5 separate regions of the Homo sapiens genome follow, and regions 1, 3, 4 and 5 are each reported to be linked to region 2. The links are microRNA targets in miRTarBase. Many come from high-throughput screens and were not tested one by one. Region 2 holds a microRNA gene; each other region holds the end of a gene's coding sequence.
Evidence for each region. Region 2 holds the annotated microRNA hsa-miR-515-3p (GAGUGCCUUCUUUUGGAGCGUU, at 2,453-2,474, opposite strand). A microRNA usually pairs through its seed, bases 2 to 8, with sites in the 3' UTR of a target mRNA and lowers its output. Matches are read on the target gene's strand: a 7mer-m8 pairs with bases 2 to 8, a 7mer-A1 pairs with bases 2 to 7 and ends in A, and an 8mer does both.

Region 1: the mRNA of GALNT2 is a reported target of hsa-miR-515-3p. The part of its 3' UTR that is shown has no 7-base or 8-base seed match.
Region 3: the mRNA of COX15 is a reported target of hsa-miR-515-3p. The part of its 3' UTR that is shown has no 7-base or 8-base seed match.
Region 4: the mRNA of ADAM22 is a reported target of hsa-miR-515-3p. The part of its 3' UTR that is shown has no 7-base or 8-base seed match.
Region 5: the mRNA of CHML is a reported target of hsa-miR-515-3p. Seed matches in the 3' UTR shown: 7mer-A1 at 606-612.

The regions. Positions count from the first base shown.
Region 1 is chr1:230,278,687-230,282,808 of GRCh38, forward strand. GALNT2 (polypeptide N-acetylgalactosaminyltransferase 2) reads left to right here. Exons shown (of 16, transcript NM_004481.5): 16 at 617-3,436. The coding sequence ends at 772. Among named protein-coding and RNA genes, the nearest start is that of PGBD5, 150 kb to the right of the region's middle. RefSeq lists an enhancer at 3,614-3,773.
Region 2 is chr19:53,683,411-53,687,532 of GRCh38, reverse strand. MIR515-2 (microRNA 515-2) reads right to left here and starts at 2,524; the gene lies at 2,442-2,524. MIR519C (microRNA 519c) reads right to left here and starts at 1,064; the gene lies at 978-1,064. All of the region lies in intron 2 of LOC107985342 (a long non-coding RNA gene), which reads right to left.
Region 3 is chr10:99,710,894-99,715,015 of GRCh38, forward strand. It overlaps COX15 (cytochrome c oxidase assembly factor COX15), which reads right to left. Exons shown (of 9, transcript NM_078470.6): 9 at 1-3,825. The coding sequence ends at 3,694. It overlaps ENTPD7 (ectonucleoside triphosphate diphosphohydrolase 7), which reads left to right. Exons shown (of 13, transcript NM_020354.5): 13 at 1-348. Among named protein-coding and RNA genes, the nearest start is that of COX15, 19 kb to the right of the region's middle.
Region 4 is chr7:88,196,197-88,200,318 of GRCh38, forward strand. ADAM22 (ADAM metallopeptidase domain 22) reads left to right here. Exons shown (of 32, transcript NM_001324418.2): 32 at 275-4,122. The coding sequence ends at 295. Among named protein-coding and RNA genes, the nearest start is that of SRI-AS1, 18 kb to the right of the region's middle.
Region 5 is chr1:241,630,039-241,634,160 of GRCh38, forward strand. It overlaps CHML (CHM like Rab escort protein), which reads right to left. Exons shown (of 2, transcript NM_001381853.1): 2 at 1-4,122. The coding sequence ends at 3,758. The region is part of intron 1 of OPN3 (opsin 3); the gene reads right to left. Among named protein-coding and RNA genes, the nearest start is that of CHML, 8.3 kb to the right of the region's middle.

The sequences.
Region 1 (4,122 bases), not on the chromosome of region 2:
CAAGGAGCTTGCACACCAGTAGAGAACAGACTACATAGAAATAGGCTTCTCAATGCTATGTTCTGTTCAAACAACCATCTCTCTTCCTGACATTTGGCCTGACACCGTTCCTCTGGCTCCCCCGAGCAGAAAGCCCTAAGTGGGAGCATGGAGGTGCCCAGACCAAGGCCTCCAGGCAGGGCTGCTTTCCAACAGCCAGGGGAGGATCTGGCCCTGCATTGTGTGGATCCCTTCTTGGGGTGAACCATCACTGGATCAAGCTTTCATACGAAGGCATGCAAATTCCCCTACATCAAATCCTGTGTTAATGACGAAGGGGTGGGTGCCCAGAGCTCTGGGGCTCAGAGGAGGGGACACCCACAGAAAGTTTGGGGCAGGAGACGTTCTGAGTTTTGATCCAAGGCAGAGAATATGTTTCCTTCCTGGGTCCCAGCAGCACCTGTGGCTGGTTTCCTGTGGGGCTGCTGCAAGCTCCTCGGCCGTTCAGATGAGAGGCTGGGAAAAACGTGTCTATCTGTGAGTTTTTAATGCAGCCACAAGGTCCTGAATTCACACGAATCTGTTTGTACTCCTTTGCTTGTGCCCACACTCTAAGGCACTCTCCTGTGTCTTGCAGAAATGGGAACAGATCGAGGGCAACTCCAAGCTGAGGCACGTGGGCAGCAACCTGTGCCTGGACAGTCGCACGGCCAAGAGCGGGGGCCTAAGCGTGGAGGTGTGTGGCCCGGCCCTTTCGCAGCAGTGGAAGTTCACGCTCAACCTGCAGCAGTAGGAGGGTCCGGGAGGCCCTGCCGTCCTGTCTCCTGCACCATTGGGTGGAGTCTGGTGATCACATTATTGATTATGTTTCTTAAACTTTCCGCGAAACTAATATACCTCAGTATTCCATCATGGTCTGAAAGTCAAACTTCGGCAAGGCACGGACGACTGTGCAGACACAGCAGCGGCAAGAAGCGAGAACTGCCCTCCCCCTCCTCTCGGTGCAGCCCAGCCGGGCCCCCTTCCCCAGGCCGGAGCGCCCCTCTTCCTTCCAGCTTTCACTTCTGCCGGCTCCGCAACTGAGTGACACCCAGCGACAACCGACTGGGGAGTGGTAGAAGCAACTGAACGGATGCGTGCGAGCTGAGGACAGGGCGGGAGGAGGGGGCACACATGCCCCAGGGGAGCGAGGAGAACTCTTGAAATCTCCATTTTCAATCCCTTCGAAATCACGTATGGTTTCCACAAAGCCGAGTCGTGTCACGTGGCAGGTTTACGTCAATAGTCCCTCTCTCTGCTCCTCCATTCGCAAGTGTCTTCCTGGGCCAGACTCCCCTCCACCTCATGTACTTGCTATATTGAGGATGAAGTTTTCTATGGTGGGACACTAAATATAAAGCTATATAGAGAAAGAATGTACGGTCAGTTCCCTATGGTTTCTGTAGATCATCGTCATCTTGTATATTCCCCACAAAGCCGTTCGCAGCTTCCGGGAGAAGGGGCCAGAGCCCGGTGGGGCCAGTTTCTCACAGAGGGAGGAGGTGGCCTTTGTCCCCTGGAGCCCGATCAGCCAGTTGGTGCTACTGCTGTGGCCAGCTGGGGGGCTTCCTCCAGACCACCGGCCTCGGCCCCGGCATCCCTGTTGGGCGTCAGCCTGAGAGTCCCTACTGTGCGTCAGAATCCACCTTGCGTGCTGTGCGTATCTGTGAACCTGGAGCGGTTACTTATTTTGACAGATATCACTTTGGGTCTTTTTACATTAAATTTCTTTTCTCTAAGGAATATAAGACATACCCCATAGCTCTGTGTGAGCCAGCAATACCGCTGCCCCCTGGCGACAGGGCAGACCAATGATGCCAGGCAGCTGTCACACGCTAGTATTGGCTTCATTGTGATCTGAGCCCTGCACGCTGGGCCTTCAGAATTAATGGCCAGCAGTGTCAGGGATGAGCCCGTCAGCCAGGGCACAGGCCTGGCTCACAGTCCTGCACACCTGCTGGCCTGGGGAGCTCCAGCCAGGCAGCGAGTCCTGCCCCGCCCGCAGCTCCCTCCCACACCCCGCCTGGCCAAGATGACTGCTTCAGGGGGCTTTGGGGAAAGAATTAGGAAGGGTCAGAACCAAACAATACCTGCTCATTTACACTGAGGATTCAGGGCGGGAGACAGGAGCCTTGGGGTCCTGTTAAACCACAGACAGTTATGAACTGAAAGTCATAACGGGGAGAGGTGCCTGGCTTCTACCTGGGTGCTCAGGAATGTTCCTCGTCACCCCTGCCACTCTGTGGTCGGTGCCCTGCTTCCTCCTCCACTCCTGGCCGCCTTCTCCAGCGCCGCACACACAGATGCTCAGTCTCAGAGAGGCTGGCACGGCCTGGCAGTCTGAGAAAAGCGTCAGTTAGGCACACCTGCAGGCCCCTCGGTGGGACAGCGGCGGCCTTGGAGTTAGGAGCCACCCTGGGAGGTTGTGCCGGTGCCATGCTCCTCCCTGTGTCTTGTATGAAAGGGGCCACTGTGTGTCTTCCTCCCCGGCGGGAGCCCCACATGTGTGCACTGTAGGACAGCGGCCCCGAGGTGGAAGCCTGGCTGGAGGGCTGCCCTATAGGTCTTCTCTTCCCGCCTCCCCTGCCATGCAACCAGATGTGTTGTGAGTGGGCAGCGTGCCCCCACGCTGGAGTAACTCCGCACGCTTCTGTCTTTCACGGTGGGCGCTCGGGGGGAGCCTGAGGAAAACCCCCTTAGGTACCTGTGCGAGGCTGTGGAGTGCAGGCCAGAGCAGGGTGTGCGTAGCCCCCAGCACCCAGGTTCTTCTGTCAGACCCTGTGACCTGCGAGCTGCTACTACTGTAAGGAGGGAAATGGATGAATCTGGCTCGTTTTAAAATCACGTTTTCTGACGAATCCTTTGCCCCTTCACCTTTACCCCGCCCGCACCCCTAGGCCCTCTCAGCCTTCCTATCATCCCACGTGTCTACCCAGACCCTTGTGCGGCCCATGCCCTGGGGGCGGCGTCCTGTCCCTGAGCTGGGAGGCGGCTTTGGATGGTCCGGGCGTCAAGAGCAGGGGTGGGCCGGGGAGGGGTCCTTTGCGGTGAGCTATGTTTACATGACACAGTGTGCCAAAGTGACTTACTGCGGTTGCGTTAGTTTTTAATCATCAGGACTATCTCACCCTCCCACTCCTGTTTTTAAAACTCAGAATTCTTTCCTAAGAGCCCTTCGAGCAAAGCGTGCCGAAGTTAGTTGTCTTCTCTGTGCTGGTCCTTTCTTATGTCCTCATAAAAGCTCAGATGATGGTATCTGTGAGTATGTTTTGCAAATTCAAAATATAGTTTGGTAATTTTTTTTTCCAGTTGATTTTTAAAAAGAACTGCTGTACAGAGCTTGTACTTTGTCCATTTTATAGATGGAAACCATCCTTGAAAATTGTTTAACTTAAATAAAGAGAAGATACTTTCTAGATACCGCTCTTTGCTGGCCAGAGTCTGTCCTGGTGTGTGAGGGCTGGGTGGGGTGGGTGTGGGGACTGGGATTGGGGTCAGCCTTCTGCAGCTCCTGCTCAGTGGCTGTTTCTTATCACCTTTTGCAGATGCGCTTTTATTGCTGTGCCCTTTGGTTGGTTATTCTTACTTGTAATAATAATCATTATCATTTGTGGAGTGTTTATGATGTGCCAGGCACCCAGCCAAGCCCTTAAATACATTTGCATTTTACAGCCACAGGGGAAGCTGGTGAAGGAAGTTGCTAGCCTGCTCAAGGTCACGTCCTTCCTGTGTACCTGCCTGGAGCCAGCCCTTGGCACTCGCACCCAGACCCTGTGCTCCAAACCAGGGGACAAATATTTTTACAGTTTTTCAAGTAGTTAAGATTTATAGACTTGTTTACCAGTTACCTGGGGCTCTTCGGTTCCATCCAGGCGTCTCTGAGGTTCTTCAGATACTATTTGTTTTATTTTATTTTTTTTGAGACGGAGTCACCTAGGCTGGAGTGTGGCGGCGCAATCTCGACTCACTGCAACCTCCGCCTCAGTGATTCCAGCGATTCTCCCGCTTCAGCCTCCAAGGTAGCTGGGATTACAGGCACTCACCACCATACCTGGCTAATGTTTTGAATTTTTAGTAGAGATGAGGTTTCACCATATTGGCCAG
Region 2 (4,122 bases):
ATATATGTATATATATATTTTTTTTTTGAGACAGTCTTATTCTCTCGCCCAGGCTGGAGTGTGGTGGCGTGATCTTGGCTCACTGCAACCTCCATCTGTCCGTTCAAGTGATTCTCCTCCCTCAACTTCCCCAGCAGATGGGAATACAGGCGTGCGCCACCATAGCTGGCTAATTTTTTGTATTTTTAGTAGAGACAGGGTTTCACCATGTTGGTCAGGCTGGTCTCAAACTCCTGACCTCAAGTGATCCACTCGCCTCAACCTGCCAAAGTGTTGATATTGCAGGCATGAGCCACCGCTCATGTCGTATACACACAAAAACTGCTCATATACTCATGCGCCTGGCTGTACATCATTTATTTTCCAGACCCTATCTCAAAAAAAAAGAAAGTTCCATATACTGTATGCTCACATAAAGAATTACTCCTACACATAAATGTTTGCTCCACACATAAGAAATGAATGGAGTGACAGAGATCACCATGGCCCCTGTGCAGAGGTGATGCCCAAATTCATGATGGGTCTCATATTGAAAATTAAGATCAAAGGCCGGGTGCAGTGGTTCATGACTGTAAACCCAGCACTTTGGGAGGCCGAGGCAGGTGGATTACGAGGTCAGGAGATGGAGACCATCCTGGTCAACACGGTGAAACCCCATCTCTGCTAAAAATACAAAAATTAGCCGGGCGTGGTGGCATGGGCCTGTACTCCCAGCAACACAGGAGACTGAGATGGGAGAACCACTTCAACCCGGGAAGGGGAGATTGTAGTGAGCAGAGATCGTGACCCTGCAAAGAGGACCACCTGAGCCCAAGAGAGCTAGGTTGGAAGTGCCACTGCTCTCCAGCCTGGGCAAAAGAGACCCCGTCTTAGAAAACAAACAAACCAGGAACAAAAGCCCACCCTCATCCAAGTCTGATGATAAGCACGCTCTGCAAATGTATTGCCGAGATCAGCATGAACGTTAACGTTGCTTTTCTCAAACTGTAATCCTCTAAAAAGATGCACTTTCTTTTCTTTCAGACAACAGAAAGCGCTTCCCTCTAGAGGGTCACAGGCTGAGATCTTCTTGCTCCAGCACCATTGATTTTTTGTTGGAATTTTCCTTGACCAGGTTAAAATGGACACAAAAATAAAGATGCATTTATTGGCCCTGTTTGCATGATTTCTGGAATCCAGAACATAAACCCCTATCAGGGCCATCTCCAGTTCCTTGTTTCAAAAAGCAATGCCGACTATACATACCTTATATTTAACCATGAGAATTGGGCTGGATTCTAGAGAACAGCAATAGATTTTGAGCTAAGTGTTCACTCGAGTTCCAGTACAGTGACACACAGTCCCGACGGGGGCATCCAAAATGGAATCTACGATGTTGAAGAATATGCATTGTCACACACACAAACACCCTCCAGGAGAGACCACAGGCCAGGCTGTAAAAGCTCCTCAATAAAATGAGCAGAAACACACAGGTACAGGTGAGGTGTGGTGGCTCACACCTCTAAACCCAGCCCTTTAGGAGGCTGAGGCAGGAGTATCACTTGAGTTCAAGAGTTTGAGACCAGCCTGGGCAACATGGTGATACCTCATGTGTAGAGAAAACAGAAAAGTTAGCCGGGCGTGGTGGTGTGCGCCTGTAGACAGCTACTCAAGAGGCTGAAGTGGCAGGTGGAGGTTGCAATAAGCTGAGATGGCACCACTGCACTCTAGCCTGGGTGACAGACCCAGACCTTATCTAAAAAAAAAACAAAAACATACACACACAAACAAAAAATTACCCAAAGTGATACGAGAGTATTCTCTGTGTATAGAAGAGTGTTTTGTGTGTATATGACTATGTTACATGTATAATAAGAATATGATAAAATATATATTTTTGAGACCGTACATCAATAAAAATTAAGTTCCATATACTATGTGCTCACATGAAAAATAATTCCTACACATATGTGCTTGCATTGGCAGCACACATTAAAAAAAATTGGAGGCTAGGCTGGGTGGCTTACACCTATAATCTCAGCATTTTGGGAGGCTGAGGCAGGCGGATCACCTGAGGTCAGGAGTTGGAGACTAACCTGGCCATCATGATGAAACTGCATCTCTGCTAAAAATGCAAATATTAGCCAGGCGTCGTGGCACGTGCACCTGTAATCCCATCTACTTGGGAGGAGAGGTTGCAGTGAGCAGATAACATGCCACTGCGCTCAAGCCTGGGCCAGAGACAGAGACTCTGTTTCAAGAAAAAAAAAAAAAGCAAGCACGGGACCACTTGAGCCCAAGAGATCTAGGTTGGAAGCGCCACCGCACTCCAGCCTGGGCAACAGAGACCCCATGATGCAAAACAACTAAACAAAAACAGAACCCCAACATCATGCAAGTCTGATGATAAGCACGCTCTGCAAATGTGTTACCAAGATCAGCATCAACTTCAACGTGGTTTTTCTCAAACAGTAACGCTCCAAAAGAAGGCACTCTGCTTTCAGACAACAGAAAGTGCTTTCTTTTGGAGAATGACTGCATGAGATCTTCTCGCTCCAAAAGTCTGGGTTTTTTGACGGAATTTTCCTCACCTGGTTAAAATGGACACAAAAATAAAGATACATTTATTGACTCTCTCTGCATGTTTTCTGGAATCCAGAATATAAACCCCTAAAAGGACCATCTCCAGTTCCTTGCTTCAAAGGCTCAGCAGGTTAGCCTTGTTCATCAAGAGACAATCCTCCTGAGTTCTGTCCCCAAAGAGAAAAAGCAATGCCTACCACACATACCTTATATTTAACCATGAGAATTGGGCTGGATTTCTAGAGAACAGCAATGGATTTGAAGCCAAGTGTTCACATAAGTCCCAGTACAGGGACACACAGTCCCCATGCAAGCATCCAAAATGGAATCTAAGATGATGTTTAAGAATATACACTGTTGTACACACATTCTCCAGGATAGAACACAGGCTAGGCCATAAAAGCTCCTCAATAAATTTTTTTTTTTTTTTTGAAACAAGTCTCACTTTGTTGCCCAGGCTGTAGTGCAGGGCCGTGATCTCAGCTCACTGCAAGCTCTGCCTCCAGGTTTCCAGCAATTCTCCTGTCTCAGCCTCTGGGGTACCTGGGATTACAGGCACGTGCCACGATGCCCACCTAATTTTGCATTTTTAAAATTTTTTTTTCTTTTTTTTCTTTTCTTTTTGTGGAGAACAGGGTCTCACTGTATTGCCCAGGCAGGTCTCAAACTCCTGGGCTCAAGCTATCCTCCTGCCTCTGCCTCCCTAAGAGCTGGGATTACAGGCGTGAGCCACCGCGCCCGGCTAATTTTTGTACTTTTAGTAGAAATGAGGTTTCACCATCTTGGCCAGGCTGGTCTCAAACTCCTGACTCCAGGTGATTAGCCTGCTTTGGTCTCCAAGAGTGCTGAGACGACATGCCTGAGCTACCGTGCCTGGCCTGCAGACAGCTATTCCAGAGGCTGCGGTGGGGCATGGGCCAAGACTGCAACACTGCACTGCAGCCTGGGTGACAGAGCCAGACCTTGTCTCATAACACACACACACACACACACACACACACACACACACACACACGAAGGAAAAAAAACCCAAAGTGATACAAGAGTATTCTGTGTGTGTAGAAGAGTGTTTTGTGTTAATCATTATATTATCTATAGAAGATGATATGATAAAATGTGTATCATATATAAGACACTGCCCCCAGAAAAGGAAGTTCTATATACTGAATGCTCACACGAAGAGTAATTTCTCCACCTAAGTGCCTTCTCTGGCAGCATATGTTAAAAAAAAAAAAAAATGACAGCGATTCCCACGTCCCCTGCACAAAGTGACACCCAAATTCATGATGGTCCCATATTTAAAATTAGAAAAAACAAATGCCGACACCCACAGCCAATCATTTCTACTTCAAGTACATCTCAAGTATACTGTTAATCTGAAATACAAATTTAACCAGGTTTCCCTGCTCTGGGAAGCCCCCTTTGGTAATTCAGATAAGGGTCTCCTTTGGAAGGTAATGGGTAAGGAACATGGAGATGTCAGCCAAGGGAAGTGACTCTCAGGGATTTCTATGGATTATGCAGACGCCCAGCCAGATCCCAAACTTCCCCAAAAGATCC
Region 3 (4,122 bases), not on the chromosome of region 2:
CTTCATGTTTTAAAAACAATGGACGTAAGTGCAGAGAGACCTTTGAAAATATTAAGGGAAATCTATTTAATCCTATAGGTATGTGATGACTTGTTTTTTTGGAAAAAGGTATTTGGAACATCAATCTGTAATTATCCATTTTCCATTCATGCATTCACTAATTCAATATTTGATATGTGTCTGGGAGTGCTGGGAATAACATAAATACAAAAAAAACCCTAAGATAATCATTCACCAGAAGCTCATAGATATAATACAGTTATATAGCTAAATGCAACCAGTTGTTTTTCCAAATGTACTCATCATCTGTAATAAAAGAAAAATGAAGTAAAACATCTGAAACCTTAACTTACTCATGAGTTGCTACTTCCTTGGAGGCAACTGTAGAAGCATTAATATATGGTTCTTTGGGTTGGGTCATACTGCCCTCTGCTGACTCAGTTACTAACTAAGGACAACCTGGGTTTGAGGATCAGGAGAGGATGGTGTGGGAACCTGCCTCAGGAACTACAGTTCCCTTTCTTTGAAGGATTCTATCCAGAAGAGACCATATCCTACTAACATACTAATAGGAGCAACATAGCAGATCAAATGATAAGGTGGGGTGGAAATTAGAAGGGAATGGGAATAAGCTAGTCAGAACTTTCTAAGGTAACTAGGCTATTAGGACCTAAGCCAGTGGTCCCTAGACTTGTCTGCACATTGGAATCACCTGGGGAACTTTAAAAATATGCCTTTTACTTCCTCCAGGGATTGTGACTTAATTGGTCTTAGATGAGGCTTGGGCTTTGGGATTTTTCTAAGATTCAAATAAGAGAGAAGTTGGGAATCTCTTCTAGGCAATAGCATAAGCCCAGCCAGGGTCCAGCATTTATGAAAAATTGACAAACTGTTTTGCTAAGAATCACCTGTGTTAGTCGGCTTGCATTGCTATAAGGAAATACTGACAATTTTTAGAAAGAAAAGAGGTTTATTTGGCTCACTGTTCTGCATAGAACTGTATAGGAAGCATGGCGCTGGCATCTGCTTCTGGTGAGGGCCTCACGAAGCTTACAATCATGGCAGAAGGTGAAGGGGAGCCAGTGTGTCACATGGTGAGAGAGAGCAAGCGAGAGAGGAGGAAGTTCCAGGCTCTTTTAAACAACCAGCTCTTGCATAAACAACCAGAGTGAGAACTCACTCATTACTATGGGGATGGCACAAAGTCATACATAAGGGATCCGCCCCCATGACCCAAATACCTCCTACTAGGCCCACCTCTAACACTGAATGTCACACTTTGAACATGAGATTTGGAGGGGACAAAACATCCAAACCATATCACCACCTGAGAATGGTACACTACAGGTCACAGAAACTTACAGAGTACTGGAGTTGAAAGAGAACTGAGATCACCTAGTTCAGAGACTAACGGGAAACGTTAGGTCATTTATGGCTCTCAGACACGTTAAGCCTGCATAACATTTTTTAAAATCTTGAAATTAGTTCCCAACACTTAATTGAGAGCTTTCACAGAAAAATCTAGATATGTGGCTTATTTTTAAAAAACAGAAGATTTGCTGACTTAAACACTGCAAAATTAAACATTTATATCTGAATCCAGCATCTCTTTTTGCTTTGTAAATGAGGTCAAGGATGAAATCCAGATGTTCTTCCTTTGTATTTGTATTGTCACTGTATGGAATCTAGGTATATCCAAGGAAAAATAAACTTAAGATAAGCTTATTTTCCTTATTTCAAAAAGCAAAACAAAAACCCAGAAGATCTAACAACCCTGGACCTGTAGAGTGGCAGCAACAGACCAGAACTCAGCAGTATAGTCCGAGCTGGGGCACCTGCTCGCCAGTGTTACTGTCTCCATCAGCCTGACCCCAGTGAGCATTTGATTTGGTCTACCCTACTCTTGCCTTCTACAGAACTAAAACTAACTTCCTGCAACTTTCATCCATTGCTGCCAGCTCTGCAGCATAATGGAAGCTCATTCCCTCTTCTGCATGAGACGGCTTCAACTTCTCAAGGACAGGAATCTTGCTCTCTCTCCAGATGTTCTCTGCTCCAGTTAAATATCCCTAGTTCCTTCACCTATTCCCTGTGTGACAGGGGTTCTGGACTCATCATTCTGATCTCTTCTTCTGGATACACACTTAGTGGCCATCAATATCTTGCTTAAATTTGGTACCCAGAGTGAAATGCAGTATGTTAGGGGTATTTTGACTATGGCTGTGACACTTCTACTGATAAAACCTGAAGTACCACTAATTTTTCTGTTATCATATAATAACAACATGAATACTACTTGGTTCATATTGAACCTGAGGACAACTAAAATCCCGTCTTTTTTATATGAAATGATATAAGGCCAGGTTTCTTCAGCCCAAACTTATACAACTTATTTAATTTAAATGAGTATGTTACATTTCTAATCTGTTTAATTTCATCTCGATGGGGTCATTCTGGGACTGTTTTCAGTTGCCACTGTCATCTATTATATTAGCAATATTGGGTTGCTCCATCCTCAAATCAGATGTTTCTGATGCCTTCATCCAAATCACTGATTTTAAAAGTAAAGTTGAATAAGACAGGGCCCTATGAAATATCAATAGAGACCAAAATCACATTAATTCAGCAGTCAACAATTTGTTTATCTGGGTAGATGTCCATGCACTACACCATCAAGGCCATATTTTTCTTATTACAAAGCTGTTAGGAAACCCTCTCAGGAACCAATTTATACTGTCGATTCCATTCCTCTCTCTGACCTTGTAATGTTAACAGCCTTATCAAAAGAGGAACTAGCTGGGCGTGGTGGCCCATGCCTGTAATCTCAGCACTTTGGGAAGCCGAGATGGGCGGATTACCTGAGGTCAGGAGTTCAAGACCAGCCCGGCCAATGTGGTGAAACCCCTTCTCTACTAAAAATACAAAATTAGCCAGGCATGGTGACTTGTGCCTGTAGTCCCAGCTACTCGGGAGGCTGAGGCATGAGAATCGCTTGAACCTGGGAAGTGGAGGTTGCAGAGTGAGCTGAGATCACGCCATTGTACTCCAGCCTGGGCAACAAGAGTGAAACTCTGTCTCAAAAAAAAAAAAAAAAATGGAACTATTTGGCGATTACCTCCTTTTCCAAGTACTTAAAAACCATTTTGCTACATATACACATTAAGCTTGTCAAAATCTGCAATTTCCCCATTTCTGAAAATCAGGATATTAGAAGACATTAGCTTTTTTTTTTTTGCTGAAGACCAGCTGGCTACTTTGGGTATGTCAATCCTATCCTTTCAATCTTCACCTAATGGAAGTGAAGTTAAGATCATAAAGAAATTCTATTTAGGCAGAATTAAGGACTCAGGAGAACATCCACGTAGAAATCATCCACGTAGAACCAAGAGCTTGCCAACACTGAAAAACCTGACACAAAGCCTGTTAAGCAGCAAATGGCAGACATTTCTTTCTCTACATTAAAACTGATTTTCAACATGAAAAGCAGATTTAAAAGGGAACATTTAGGGTAACCACACTTAATGCATTCTTGATCCAGTGACTATCTCAAAACAGGAAAAGATTTTTAAGTAAGTTGACCATTTGGAAACCACTTGGTATGTCAAGGTCATCTCGTAGAAAAGCCCAAGTTCTTATGATCTCTGAAGAGCTCTCAAAAGCAGTCACAGTCCCAGGAGGCTGGTCCTCTAAGAATCATTTTGGGACTCTTCGGAGTTCATTCATCAGCCAAAGAGCACCAGTGAGCAAAGCCAAGGAGCCTGACTGGTGAGTGGCGGCCAGAGGAGTTGGGACATACATCAGCAGCGTGCTGATGCCCAAGCCCACCTGTCACAAAGGAAAGAAGGCAATAGGAAAGGCAGTAACCCAAAGTTCACATTGAAAATGGCCAGGCGTGGATAACCACACACAAACCTCCACATCCTCCTATCAGAGCACTTAAAATACACACATTTTTAATTTCACAAGCAAATATGCTTACAATGAAAGAAATTCGAACAAAATTGATAAACCTAAAATTCCCCTTATTCTTCAATCCATCCCAGTTCCCCAGAGTAGTCACTGTTACCAGTTTCTGCATACTTGTACTTTAGTATGTTTATAGAGAAATAAATATATAGTTTT
Region 4 (4,122 bases), not on the chromosome of region 2:
ACTCTATTCAAAATGTTTAGTAACATTAAATGAGGATGTGATGGTTTTTGTATCAAAAGATGGCTGCTGTTAAAAAGGTTGAGACACAGGTTTTGAGGAAACAGAGAGCTAAAAGTTGGAGTGTTTATTCTATCCACTTTTTAGACTTTGCAAGAGTGTGCATCCACAATCACATATATATGGATGGAATCACTGAATCTTTTTCATCTCCTATTCAGAATACATCTGCTTCCTGCTTTCACAATGTGCAATTTTGCTCTTTTCTGTTGTGCAGCTATGGGAGACATCCATTTAAGATCAACTGTTTACATGTGATACATCGAAAACTGTTTACTTCAACTTTTATAGAAACCCAGGCTCATGGAATCACTGCAAATCTATCTGCTCTTCAGACAATACGAAGACCCTCTGAGATGCTACAGAGGAGAGGAAGCGGAGTTTCACATCTGGTTACCATTTTCTTTTTGTCATTGGCTTAGGATTTAACTAACCATGAAAAGAACTACTGAAATATTACACTATAACATGGAACAATAAAGGTACTGGTATGTTAATGGATAATCCGCATGACAGATAATATGTAGAAATATTCATAAAGTTAACTCACATGACCCAAATGTAGCAAGTTTCCTAAGGTACAATAGTGGATTCAGAACTTGACGTTCTGAGGCACATCCTCACTGTAAACAGTAATGCTATATGCATGAAGCTTCTGTTTATTGTTTTCCATATTTAAGGAAACAACATCCCATAATAGAAATGAGCATGCAGGGCTAAGGCATATAGGATTTTTCTGCAGGACTTTAAAGCTTTGAAAGGCCAATATCCCATAGGCTAACTTTAAACATGTATTTTTATTTTTGTTTTGTTTTTTACTTTTCATATTTATATTAGCATACAAGGACAATTGTATATATGTAACATTTTTAAAATTTTAAAAAAATGCAGCTGTTACACACAAGTGTATTTTGCCAAATGCCTAAAAATTCCGTCACAATCACATCATCGTCATCCATCCAGTGATCTTCAAAGACTATAAGCAGGTAATGTAAATATAGTGGTCAATGCTGTAAATGTGTCTCTCCATAATTCGTATTTGTCCAAAACATGTGATATCCCTTTAACCTGTGCACAGTCTGGAGGCAGTTTTATTGAGTGAGTAGTTGAGTGAGAGAACAAAATGCCCAGCAAAACTTCTGGCCTCCACAGTTTGCTGATGCAGGAGCCCACTCTGCTGCCGATGGGCTGCTCCCTGGAAATCATCTATCCCATCCGTCCATCCCATCTCATCCCAGTGAGCCAGCCCCTCAGCAGTGTGTGCTGCTGAGATTAAGCAAGTGCACCAAAGACACATGAGACAACGTACTGCCAGTGAGCTGGTAGCTTCTGGTTTGCCAATACTCTAACCCTTTGTGGCCTGAAGTTTTGTTCCTTGGCAAAACTTTGTAGTCACCCTTATCTGTGAAATGAATGACTTGTTTTAACAAAAACAACTTTGACACTGTTGATTAAGAATATTTGTCATCACTGGGATGTGAATCCCAACAAGTCATTCTGCACTGACTCTGAAGCAAGATGACGGAAGATTCTACTGTTTGAGTTGAGCAGCTTCAACCATTCATAAAGGGTTAAGTTAGATCTAAACCACAGAGATGCAGCATCTGCGAAGTTACACTAACAGCTGGTGGGGGAAAGAATCTGATGCTTTGAAACATATATTTTTAATCCATAGGAAAATAAGATTCTATTTTAAAAGACCCTTCTTTAAAACCAAAGTTTGATAGCTGTTATAATGGCAGATCTGTCATTCCAAAAGAAAGCTAGCTACCCTAGTGAGGCTGGAGATTGATGGGCTCAATCACATGGTCTGCTCTGAAGTATACTTCTGATTTCCTCATTTGCTGTGTGTTCTTAAGAGGAATGGAATCTGCAGACAGGTTTTCAGATATACTCTCTTAAATTTGATCCTCTCCCATAGTATCCATGGACAAAATCCATATCATCTTCATATGTAATCAATTTGATTACATATCATGCCCAAACTGAAGGGCCGAGTTAGAAGGCAGCATTTTATACTGTGTGTTTATGTCTTCTGTAATGGACCTCTCTTTTGAAAGTCTTTGAAATGTTTGGAAAGCAATTTAATGATCCAAAATTACATAATGTAAAACAGCATTTTTCATGACAGGAAGGGATGTGATTGTTGATATGACCATAAAGCGATCCATCAGGCCAAGGTTTGGGTGAGTGTTGGGCAGTGTTGCCACATAGCTCAAGCCAAGAACAGAAGGGCAGACAGATTGAAAGATGTAGCAAATAAAGTGACTTTTTACCAAGATCACTGTAACGTGCACTGAATGTTTCCTGGTACTGAGTGTACAAAAGGCTAATGCTATAAGGTTTATTTTGACTATAAAAGAGTTTATAGATTTGAATATAAGGTGCCTCATGTAAATATGCTTCCTAGTTACAGGTACACAAACTCTAATTTGAAAGAATCCACAAATGGCTAGCTGAGAAGTTAACAGATCTCTATCATTCGTCTGTGTGTCTTTCTTCCCTCACCTATTTTTACATGAAATTATTATTTCAAATGAAAATCATGATCATGTGCCTTTTGGGAGACATGGTTTCTCTAGAGGTATATAGTTTGTAATTACCCGCCTTGGTAATAACCTTCCTGTGGAACTGACTAAAAATTTTTGTTTTATTTGTAGAGATTATGATTTGAGGTATACAGTAACTTTAATGTTCTATTCTTGGAATCTACTCTATCTCCCATGTTTAAACATTCTTAGAGCCATTTGTGGGATTCATTGACAAATTTATAGTCTCAAGGGAGAGTTTCAAGAAGTATCTATATGTATACTCATGGTTGGGGTTCTAGAGGCATTACATCTAAATATTTATGACTTTTCATCCACCGAGGTAGGTAGCATTAAATATACAAGCACAGCATTATTTCTCTTTAAATATCTATTTTGGAGAGAAACTTTGAGGCCGTATCACAGTTTATATCATGCAACTAATATTTATATTTCCCAATCCACTACAAAATCATTGCTAAGCAGAAGAGAGCAGTTATTTGGCCTTTATGTTCCATTGTATGCCTTTTTCCCCTCTTCCAGTTTTATGCATTGATAAGACTACAGATTGGCACCCTGCTGCCTGAGAAGTTCCATTTATCCATAGTCATTGCAGTGCAGTAAACCCTGATTTAAAGGAACATTTAAGTCTCTCCAGTAAGTGTGAACAGGAAGGCATGGGATAGAAGAGAGTCCTTATGGAGTGGACTGGCCACATGAACTGTCCTCCAGCCACTCTTTATTTAGATGGGAAGTGGCATGGTCCTCTGAACGCTGCAGGCTGGAAATGATCCCCAGGGCACATGCAATCTGTGGAAAGGAATACATCGGACAGTGCAACATGGTGAGGGCTTTCAATTTGCTGTGGTTGCTGTATTTTTAACAAGACACCCGGAGCTTCGATTAGGAATAACCTATCATTAGAGTTGTTCCTTTAAAAAATGTTGATGAATAAAGCAAATGTGGGTTTAAAATGCCAACTTATTTTTCACTTTGATATTGGTGCTTTATTAAGTGATACCATAGTTTCTCTCTCTTTTCCCTGTTACTTTAAAAAGAATTTTAAAATTGTGTTTGTATATAAGGTCAGTCTGGCATAGAATTTCTGAAAGTAACATTAATAGGATTTCTAAAGAAGTTGTCAGAAAGACAAAATTGGATATTCTCTGCACTTTCAGAGAAGGACTATTTATGTTTGAATTTCATAACAGGCTTACATTTCTTTTCTATTGATTCCCTTGCATATCTACATAATTTAATCCTGTCTATTGTCCCAGATCTCTTGTGGCTACTTTACCTGTTACCTTTTTTGGGATTTTGTTCTTTATGTTTTACAGTTACCTTCGGACCAGAAGATATATGGTATTTTTATTCACTTTTTTCAGTGTTTTAAAATAAGGTTTGTTCATTTATTCATTTTATCCATTCATTTCCTATTGTCGTATAGTTCTAACCATATATATAGTACTTTAAATATTTTCTTATGTTATTATTTAACACAATAATAAATTCTTATCTAAAGAAAAGATTATTTTAC
Region 5 (4,122 bases), not on the chromosome of region 2:
ATACTAATGTCACATATTGGCATTTCTTTGGATGTAGCTTTATATTTTAAAACACATTATCTAACTTAATCCCCACAATAATTCTGTGAAGTATTTCTCTTCTGTAGATGGTGAAATAGATACTAGGAGTGACTTTCCCAAGAGTATACAACTGGTAAGTAGTGAAATGAGAACTGTAATTCTGGTTTTCAAAAAAACTCCCCATCTCCCCATGTACTACTTTTCCACTACACTGGCATGGCTCCCATGGGAGTTTGTTCATGTTTAAAAATATAGCTCTTTAAACTTGCTTCTATTTAGGCATCTTTCTTAATTTATCTCTATGTAGTTATATAACTTTCTTTAAAAGTCTCATATATATTAATAACCAAACACACTTTTTAAATTGCAGTTTGTCACTGCTAAGATGTAGAAATGAGATTTTTAAAAATTGTGTATCCTGCAACTTCTTGAATTAGTCTTTGTTAGTACATTTTTATACTATAAGTTTTAGCAGTTGTAAAGCCATGTTAATAGAAAATATTTATGCTACTTTCCTTATCTTCCTCATTTTGTGAATGCTGGCTTTTATTGCAATGACAGGTCTCTTTAACCATATATAAAAATAGTGCCAACACTGTTTACTTTCCACTTGAGAAATGTTTATGTTTTCCCAGTAGGAATAATGGTAGTTCTTGGTTTAAGTACTTAACAGACTCCGAGAAGTCTATTAAATCATTGCCAGAGAAATAATTAAATCAAGGGTGAATGATGAATTTTTGAAAAGTTATCTGTAATTAATACTTTGGATTTTACTATTTGTTCTTTTGATGCTGATTTAATGGCTGTTCTGCTTAACACCAGCCTTATAATCCTGAGTGATAGTAAATTATTTGTTGCTGTATTGTTTGCCAATATTTTATTTTGCATTTTGCATCTGTTGAGAATAAAATCCTTCTAAAAATGTCTTTTAGTACTGAGAACATGTCTGCCTCAAAAGACAATTTGAAGCATACTGTCCTTCATGATACATGGATAGACATTATTTAAACATTTGAAAAAGTTCACCAGTAAGTCCATTAGGGTCAAAGTCCAACCTGTCAGAAAATTATACTGGGTTACAATATCCCCTAAATTTTTAAATGCTTTTTATTGGTATAACTTCTCATTTCCCACTTATTTTGTATTAAGAAATATATTCATTTTCTTCATTTCTAAATCAACCTTTATTTTCGACTAATTTTTCCTATTTCCATTATATTCGGCTATACCATCTTTTGCAACTTCTGATTGTTCCTTTTCTCAATTTCTTATGAATAATCTGTGATACTGAAAATCTTTTCGGTAGATCTGGAATACCTTCACCTTCATTTTATTTATCATCTTATGTATTTCTCATTTTAATTACTATTTTATAGGTCTATTTCAAGTATTTCAGTTGTTCTGTTAGATTTAAACTTTAGGATAAAGTTTAAATATGACTTTTACTATATTTTTAAAAGTCAATACAATCCATGACTTTGCTACTTTAAGTAAGTTGTCAATTACTTAAATCTGTCTAGTCTCATTTTCCTCACATATAGAGGAGCAAAAATTAGTGTATTCCGAACAAATTTTGGCCTGATAATATTTTTTGTAACACAATCTTCAGATCATGAGATGTGTTACTGAAGAACATTTTGTTAAAATTTAGCCAAATTCTGCTTCGAGATCCATGCTCTAAAATATGTTTGTTTAGTTCATCTTATCTTCACATTTCTCTGATTCAATAAGCTGCAGGACCAGTGTGTGCTTTTTACCCCCGGCAATGCTAGACTAATTTTCGTGGGCACTTTCTCTTTCTCCTGCAGCGCCTACACTCTCTAACAGTGAATGTTAGTAGAAAGATCAAAGGTTTTAGAATCACAAAAGGCTGGGTCCCCATGTTGGCTCTTCCACATACCAGATTCTGAGCAAATTACTAATAATTCTCTTATTTCTTCTTTGAAGGTGATATGGTTTGGCTGTGTTCCCACTCAAATCTCATCTTGAATTGTAGCTCCTATAATTCCCACGTGTTGTGGGAGGAACCTGGTGGGAGATAACTGAATCATGGAGTTGTTTCCCCCATACTGTTCTCATGGTAGTAAATAAGTCTCACGATATCTGATGGTTTTAAAAGGGTTTCCCTTTTCACTTAGTTCTCATTCTCTCTTGTCCACCGCCATGTAAGACGTGCCTTTCACCTTCCACCATGATTGTGAGGCCTCCCCAGCCACATGGAACTGTGAGTCCATTAAACCTTTTTCTTTACAAATTACCATCTCAGGTGTGTCTTTATCAACAGCATGAGAACACACTAATACAGAGGGTACATGCGAATTTGCCTCACAGGATTGTTGAGAAACTGTCATGAGAAAGCATAATACTAGGTACCAAACACATGATAAATACTATTTCAGAGCAAAAACTGTCACAGGGATCATCATACTCTGACTGAAGAATGGAAACTGGACTAGAGGAAAAGCAAGTTCATGTCTTCTGACAGCTCCACAGGTTTTCACCATTAGAGTACTACCAGTTTTATGACGTTGGGTGGCTCTGGGAGAAAAAAAGTTTCTATACTCTGGATAACAGCTAAGAGGCAAGAGAGATTACAGAAAATTGTTACTTCACAATTTGTTAAGTGGGACACAACCGAAAGGGCATGGTAAATCCTCCTTTGATTCATTCCTATCAGTTATGTTATAGTGATATTAATTAAAGTGGTAGAGCCAACAAGGTGGTATGTTTCATTCTCACTGAAAAACCTTGGGTAATCTATTTATAGAGGGTTTTATAAGTATCTGTAATCTCAGGTTAAAAAGGCCTCACTCTGTTTCTCCTTAGGAATTCCTAAGAATTCCTCCTTAGGAATTTCAGAACAGCCCTTCTGAAGTATCTTCTCCTGGGGCACTTCATTTTTCCTTTTGGTCTAAGTTACTTATTGGAAGCTATTTTAAGTGCCAGGGCAGGGCTCTGCAGAAATTTTCTGAAGTATTAAATAAGAATAAATCTTATCTTTCAAATTTCCTTTGCAATCAACCTCCCCAAAATGAGCTTTACAACCACTAATTGAACTCCAATTCTTTTTGTAAATTAGAATACTGTGGTGGCATCATTGCCTCATCAGTTACAAGGGTCAAGTGAGTATTATAAACTTCAGACCTTCACAGTGCATAAAGGATCATGCAAAGCTAATCTTTAAACGATTATAGACAAATGTATTTTATTATCATATTGGCATTTGTATTAGTTGCTATTCCTACCACCATGTCTATACATTTATATTATATGCAAAAGATCCACATAATTTACCATTTGTGTATGTTTCACTATTCGAACAGGCCGCAGCAACTGTAACAGCTGCAAAAGTAATTAAAATATTACTTGGGTATTACTAATTGTTCTGTAGACAAAGATAAAATCTGAAGATCATTAGCAAATACATTACCTTTAAGCTGAGTTGCTAATATGGAACCCTTACATATATACCCAATACTAAAATAAAGCTAACTCTGTTTTAAGATTCTGGGTCATATAGCCCATTCTAAACAAAATGTTCAATAATCAATAAATCACTCATTGATAGGTTAACAAAGATATTCAATGCTGAATGTCTGAGAGTTAAAGACAACATCTGCATAGCATTCATCATATATAACCACTTCTAATTACTCATATGGGAAACTGTCCTTTAAATGAGAAAATTCTGATGCCATGAAGGAGGTCCAAAACAGCATTTCGAGATTGCTCTTTTCTAATTTTGAAGGTGCTTCTCTGGGCTTTCTAGGTTTTTGCTTTCCTCAGAGGATTCTAGTTTGGCCATTACTACATTATTGGTTCCAGGAGCCTCTGGCTGCTTATCATCACCATCAAAGATAATGTCTTCTGGATTTGGAGGTGGAGGGCAGAATTCTTCAGTTGGAAAGATCTCCTGGAAAAGTGTTTCAGCTTGCTTGACAGCATGCTCATTTCCCAGGCCACAGTCAGGCCCAGAGCAGACATAAACATTGGAAGGCAAGCCATTATACGAGCTTCTGCTGATTCCCGAGGAATCTCTCATATTAAAATAAAGAGCCCACAAGAGTCTTGGCTTTGTAAGTTCTTCCTCGTTTATTTCTG